2 separate regions of the Homo sapiens genome follow, and region 2 is linked to region 1. Evidence: fine-mapped expression QTL. A gene starts in region 1. The other region holds a variant in brackets. All regions are shown on one strand. Distances are from middle to middle. Region 1 holds the start of SLC7A6 (solute carrier family 7 member 6). Region 2 has its middle 5.9 kb from the start of DPEP2.

The links. PIP is the estimated chance that this variant, and not a neighbour inherited with it, causes the effect.
Region 2: its variant is fine-mapped to the expression of SLC7A6 in whole blood (TOPMed, PIP 0.95).

The regions. Positions count from the first base shown.
Region 1 is chr16:68,263,182-68,266,080 of GRCh38, forward strand. SLC7A6 (solute carrier family 7 member 6) reads left to right here and starts at 1,345. Exons shown (of 11, transcript NM_003983.6): 1 at 1,345-1,395. It overlaps LOC124903704 (a long non-coding RNA gene), which reads right to left and starts at 1,276. Exons shown (of 3, transcript XR_007065096.1): 1 at 1,187-1,276; 2 at 6-233. RefSeq lists a silencer at 1,231-1,510 and an enhancer at 1,883-2,899.
Region 2 is chr16:68,003,952-68,006,850 of GRCh38, forward strand. It overlaps the pseudogene KARS1P3. Among named protein-coding and RNA genes, the nearest start is that of DPEP2, 5.9 kb to the left of the region's middle. RefSeq lists an enhancer at 2,635-2,899. The variant A/G (reference allele first, on the strand shown) is at 1,455.

The DNA of each region.
Region 1 (2,899 bases):
CATACCTTATATGAAGCTGTGGCAGGGACACGTGGGCTGGGTGCTGACACAAGTGTCCAGAGCTGTCCTTCTGCTCAGCCAGGGAGGCCGGAGGAACTGATCTGGGAGGCAAAGGGTGCAACTCGATTGATCCAAATATATACGTCCACTCACTGACACTTAGGGGAGGGGTTCCAAGCAGAGGGCAGGAGGGCAGCACCAGCGAGGATTCCTCAAGTATTGTCATCCCAGGCCTGCAGAGAGGAGAATGGAAGGGTTTTAGGCAGGGGAGATACAAAGTCATCGCAATCTGTATTCTAGGAGCATCCCCTACTCTGTGGAGATGGGGTAAGGGGAGCAGGATAGGGATTGAGAAGCCGTTGTGGCTGGGGAGAAGAAAACGAGGTATAGGCCGTGGGAGGAGTGGGGAGGAAGGGTCTGAGGTGCTACCCATCTCTGGCTGGGTCCCTGTCACTGGGTGGCAGGGAGCAGGGTCTTGGGTATGGTCTGGAACCAGAGGACGTGTACTTGTGGTCATAAGGCTGGGGGAAAAGATTCCAGGGCCCTGGAGAAAGTCAGTGCTTGAGGTGTGGACAGGAAATTTCGGAGGAGGGCTCAGGCGCCCATGAGGTCAGGAGGCTCTAGACAGAGAGCCCCAGAGCCACCAGAGGAAAAGGAACTCGAGAGAAAGATGGAGGAGCAAACAGAGGGAGGGGAAGGGGGCAGGAGGTGCAGCTCCCCCAAGAGGGGGGGCAGGAGGTGCAGCTCCCCCAAGAGGGGTGGCAGCCCTCTTGGGAAGATGAGGACAGAGCCCCAGGGAGGCCTGGGGTTGGCAAAGGGAGCCTGCAGTTTCTTTGTGGGTGCGGGGGCCTCAAGGGCTACGAGTCTGAGCTGTGCGTGTGTTTGGACAAGTCCCCAGAGTGTGTGTCTTCCTGGGGTTCCTAGACTGCGAGTGGCAGTGGCCCGGCGGCGGAGGCCGTTTGGATCCCTGTGTGAGCTGTAGGGGGCGCCCTGGGCGTCGGGCCCAGGTCAAGTGCGAGATAGGAACGGGGTGCGGGGGCCGATGAGAGCTCCCCGCGGGAATGTCCGCTGTGGACGCCCTCGGAGGCCCCATCTAACTCCAGGGCGGCGAGCGTGGCCGGGCCCAGTTCACGGGCTGCTCGAGCCCTGACGAGGCAGCTGGGGGCTGTCTGGCGTCCACGCTCACGTTCTGGGCCGGCGGACCCCGTACCGGCCAGGCCGTGGCGGCCACGGGGGCCCGGAAGCGCCGCCGCCAGCTGGCCCCGCACGGAACTGTGTCCCGACGCGGCGCGCGCTGTCGCGATCCGGCGGCGGGTGACGTGGCGGGGCGGGGCCTGAGCTGCCGCGGCGGCGGCGGCGCGACCGAGCATCCTGGCGGCGCCGGGCCACTGGGAGGTAACGGGCTGGGCCATGGGCGGGCGCGCCGGGAGCGGGGCCGGGGCTGGGCCGCGTTCTGTGGGAGCCGAACCCTGTGGGTCTTCGCTGCCGCCGTCGGGAGCGGGATGCGGCCCAGAAACAGCGCGGGGCTGGCCGATCGGGGCCGCGCGAGAGGCGCTGCGGGTGAGGGGGGGCGCCACGAGGAGAGAGGGACCTCGAGCGTGAGGGCCGAGTGTGGGAGAAACGCTGTATGGGTGCGAGCCCCGGAGGCTGATGGTGACCGCGAGGGAGCCAGTCTTGGGGTGTGCTGGCGACGCGGCGAGTGTGAGGGAGACCGGGGGTGTGTGTGGAGAGGGAAACCCCAGGTGCGAGGGTGACCGGGACGCTGAGTGCGCGGGCCGCGCCGCGAGCGTGAGACTGTGCGACGGTGACCCTGAGTGGGGCTGTGACTGCGCCTCCGACTGCAGGACGGAGAACCTGTGCTGTGTGGCGGCCGCGGTGGGGCAAAGAAAGACGCGGGCTCAGGACCTCAGGAGCCAGGCTTCCTGGGGCTGTCGCAAGAATGACGATTATCATTTTAAAATCAGTCCTTTTACTTTAGAGAATGCCGCAAGGTTTTGTGGCGTGCTGGAGCCTGGAGCGTTGGGCTGCTGGCGCTGGGGAACCCGCGTGCCCCTGGTGATTATGGCTCTTTTGAGCGTCCCTATAGCCTGTCATCTTGTGTGACTATCTCTCCTGAATGTGGGGAGATAGACGTGAAACATTCTGAAAATTCTTTGCTGGGCTCTAAGCAAACATGTTGTGTAATGGTCAGTATAAATAGGAATCAGGGTGTCGGCGAACACGTTTTTGAGTACCTCTTGTATGCCCTGGGCTTGGTGACACAGTTAAAAAGAATTCAGTCTCTGCCCTTGATAGGGGAAAAAGCCAGGGCAGCTCATCTCGCAGGGCGGCTGTTCAGTGCCCAGCCATCCGGGGCTTGTCTCTCAGAACTGCTCCCAGATTTCAGATCTGGGAGGAGCAGACTTGAAAGGCTGTGAGTACTTCCTTATATCAGTTCCACCTCTTTTTGGTGGCGGTGAGGCCTTTTGGGGACCTGCCCAGGCTGCCTGCATTACTCAGGTCCCATGTGTGCTGCGCAGACGGCTTTTGCTTCCCAACTTTGATCTCAGATCGTTATTCAAGTCGTTACACTGGAGTTTATTTTCCTGGCAAGTGTGTGGAAAACCACCAGCCTGATTTTCTCCTCTCTTCCTCTCCTTGTCCTCCTTCCCTATTTGGCCGTGGATGTATTTTTATTGCATATACCGGTTTTATGATCCCCATCTCCCTGGAACTTCTTAGTAGAAGAAATTTCCTGACCTTTGTGCTTCCTGCTGTAATTTCTTGGATGTATATTAGTTTCTAAAAAAGTTATGCAGGCCGGGCGCGGTGGCTCAGTCCTGTAATCCCAGCACTTTGGGAGGCCGAGGCAGGCGGATCACGGGGTCAGGAGATCGAGACCATCCTGGCTAACATGGTG
Region 2 (2,899 bases), 260 kb before region 1:
ATAGAAGTTCATGGCTGGGCACTGTGTCTCACGCCTATAATCCCAGCACTTTGGGAGGCCAAGGCAGGCAGGCAGATCACCTGAGGTTGGGAGTTCGAGATCAGCCTGACCAACATGGAGAAACCTCACCTCTACTAAAAATACAAAATTAGCCGGGCGTGGTGGCGCACGCCTGTAATCCCAGCTACTAGGGAGGCTGAGGCAGGAGAATTGCTTAAACCTAGGGAGGAGGAGGTTGCAGTGAGCTGAGATTGTGCCATTGCATTCCAGCCTGGGCAACAATAGTGAAATTCCATCTCAAAAAAAAAAAAAAAAAGATCATAGAAGTTCAGCTTTCCTCCAAAAGCTTTTTTGGCATGGATCCTATCTGTCACGTTTAAGGTGATATCAGTCAGGAGATCCCCAGTTTGCAGGTGACAATATTCTGGGATGAAGTCAGTGAGGGAGATGTCTACATGGATCTCGTTGGGGTATGGGTCTTTCCCATTGACCTACCTGACTGCAAATCTTTTTTTTTTTTTTTTTTTTTGAGACAGAGTCTCGCTCTGTTGCCCAGGCTGGAGTGCAGTGGCTCAATCTCAGCTCACTGCAACCTCCACCTCCCAGATTCAAGCGATTCTCCTACCTCAGCCTCCCAAGTAGCTGGAATTACAGGCATGTGCCACCATGCCCAGCTAATTTTTGTATTTTTAGTAGAGATGGGGTTTCATCATGTTGGCCAGGCTGGCCTCGAACCCCTGACTTCAAGTGATCTGCCTGCCTCAGCCTCCCAAAGTGCTAGGATTACAGGAGTGAACCACCGGGCCTGGCCTTGGCTGTGGATCTTGTAGTACTGATTTGGGTCCAGGCTCTCCTCCTCAGGACCCACACCATTGTCAGTGGTATGGTTGGTGGCAGCAGCAGTGACCTGGGCTTAGCTGTTTCTCACTGAGCTCTTACTGCTTGGCTGCCTTCTCTGCCACTTTCTTCTCGGCTTTCAGGTATCTCTTCGGCTTGTTCTTGCTCAGTTTTGACTCACCACCATCCACTTTAACCTTGGCCCCTTGTACTGCAGTCATCTTCCCAGAGGGCCTGGACCCAAAATTGTGTTTTTTTTCTTTTTCTTTTTTTTTTGAGATGAAGTCTTGCTCTGTTGCTCAGGCTGGAGTGCAGTGGCGCAATCTCGGCTCGCTGCAACTTCTGCCTCCAGGGTTCAAGGGATTCTCATACCTCATCCTCCAGAGTAACCAGGAATACAGGCACCCACCACCACTCCCAGCTAAATATTCACATTTTTAGTAGCGATGGGGTTTTGTCATGTTGTCCAGGCTGGTCTCGAACTCCGGGCCTCAAGTGATCCTCCCACATCAGCCTCCCAAAGTACTGGAATATAGGCATGAGCCGCTGTGCCTGGCCCTGTTTTTTGTTTTTTTCACGTGGCCGTGTAGTTAAGGAACCAGCCTTATCGTGTGGGT[A/G]AGAAAATTGAGCAGCTGGTCAGATGAGGGGTTCCTTCAATCCCTCCACTTCCAGCTGCTGCCTCTAGGAAAGGCCTCAAATTCCTTACCTCAGCTTCCTGGGATTACAGGCGCACGCCACCATGCCTGGCTAATTTTTTTATTTTTAGTAGAGACAGGGGTTTCTCCATGTTGGCCAGGCTGGTCTCAAACTCATGACCTCAAGGGATCTGCCCACCTCAGTCTCCCAGAGTGCTAGGATTACAGGCGTGAGCCACTGTGCCCAGCCTCAAATTCCTTACATCTATCAGTTTGTCCGGGCATCATTTCCTGATCACCCACTGGTGCTGGCCATTTGCTGGGGTGTGCAGTGAGGTGGCTGGATAAGTCTCCAGCTATCACATGTGCTGGCATAAGCACATGGGGGTGGAGGGTGGGCTCTGTAGAGGCCCCCAAGATCCAGGAGCCAGTGCTGACCAAACATCTAGACAACATGTGTGATTTCACATTTAACCTCAAATTCAGACTTGCTGTCTCTTGCTTAACCTTGTCTGCTGATCTCCGAGGGCTATCAGACCTGTTTCTGCAAAAACACAGTGAAGTCACAGCACACCCTGCCCCGGAGCTCTCTAAGCTTCCTGTTTTTATGCAGAAAGCCTGCCCTCCTGTGAAGCTGACCATGTGAGATCTCACTGACTCCGCATCTGGGTGAATCTGAGAAGCTTAGTTAAAAACAACAACACAAAACTTTTTTTTTGAAACTGTATCTCCCTCTGTGGCCTAGGCTGGAGTGCAGTGGTGCCGTCATGGCTCACTGTAGCCTCAAATTCGGGGCTCAGGTGATCCTCTCACCTCAGCTTCCCGAGTAGCAGGGACTACAGGGTGGTGCCACCACACCCAGCTAATTTTTTTTTTTTTTTTGGTAGAGATGGGATTTCACCATGTTGCCAGGCTGGTCTCAAACCCCTGGTCTCAAGTGATCCTCCCACCTTAGCCTCCCACAGTGTTGGGATTACAGGCATGAGCCACTGTGCCCAGACCAAAAAACTTTTTATAGGAAAAATTGCAAATACATGAGAAAGGAGAGAGAAAAGTGTATTAACTCCCATGTAGCCATCACCCAGTTTCAAAGATTACCAACTGATGGCTCATCTTATTTCATTTATGCTCTCACTCACCTCTTTCTACAGATTATTTTAAAGCAAATCATAGACATCTATTTCATCCATTTTTAAGTATGCCTCTCTAAAAGGTAAGGGCTCTTTTTAGGCTGGGCACGTGGCTCTTGCCTGAAATCACAGCACTTTGGAAGCTTGAGGTGGGTGGATCACCTGAGGTCAGGAGTTGGAGACCAGCCTGGCTAACATAGCGAACCCCATCTCTGCTAAAAATACAAAAATTAGCTGGTTGTCGTGGAGGACACCTATAATCCCAGCTACTCAGGAGTCTGAGACAGGAGAACTGCT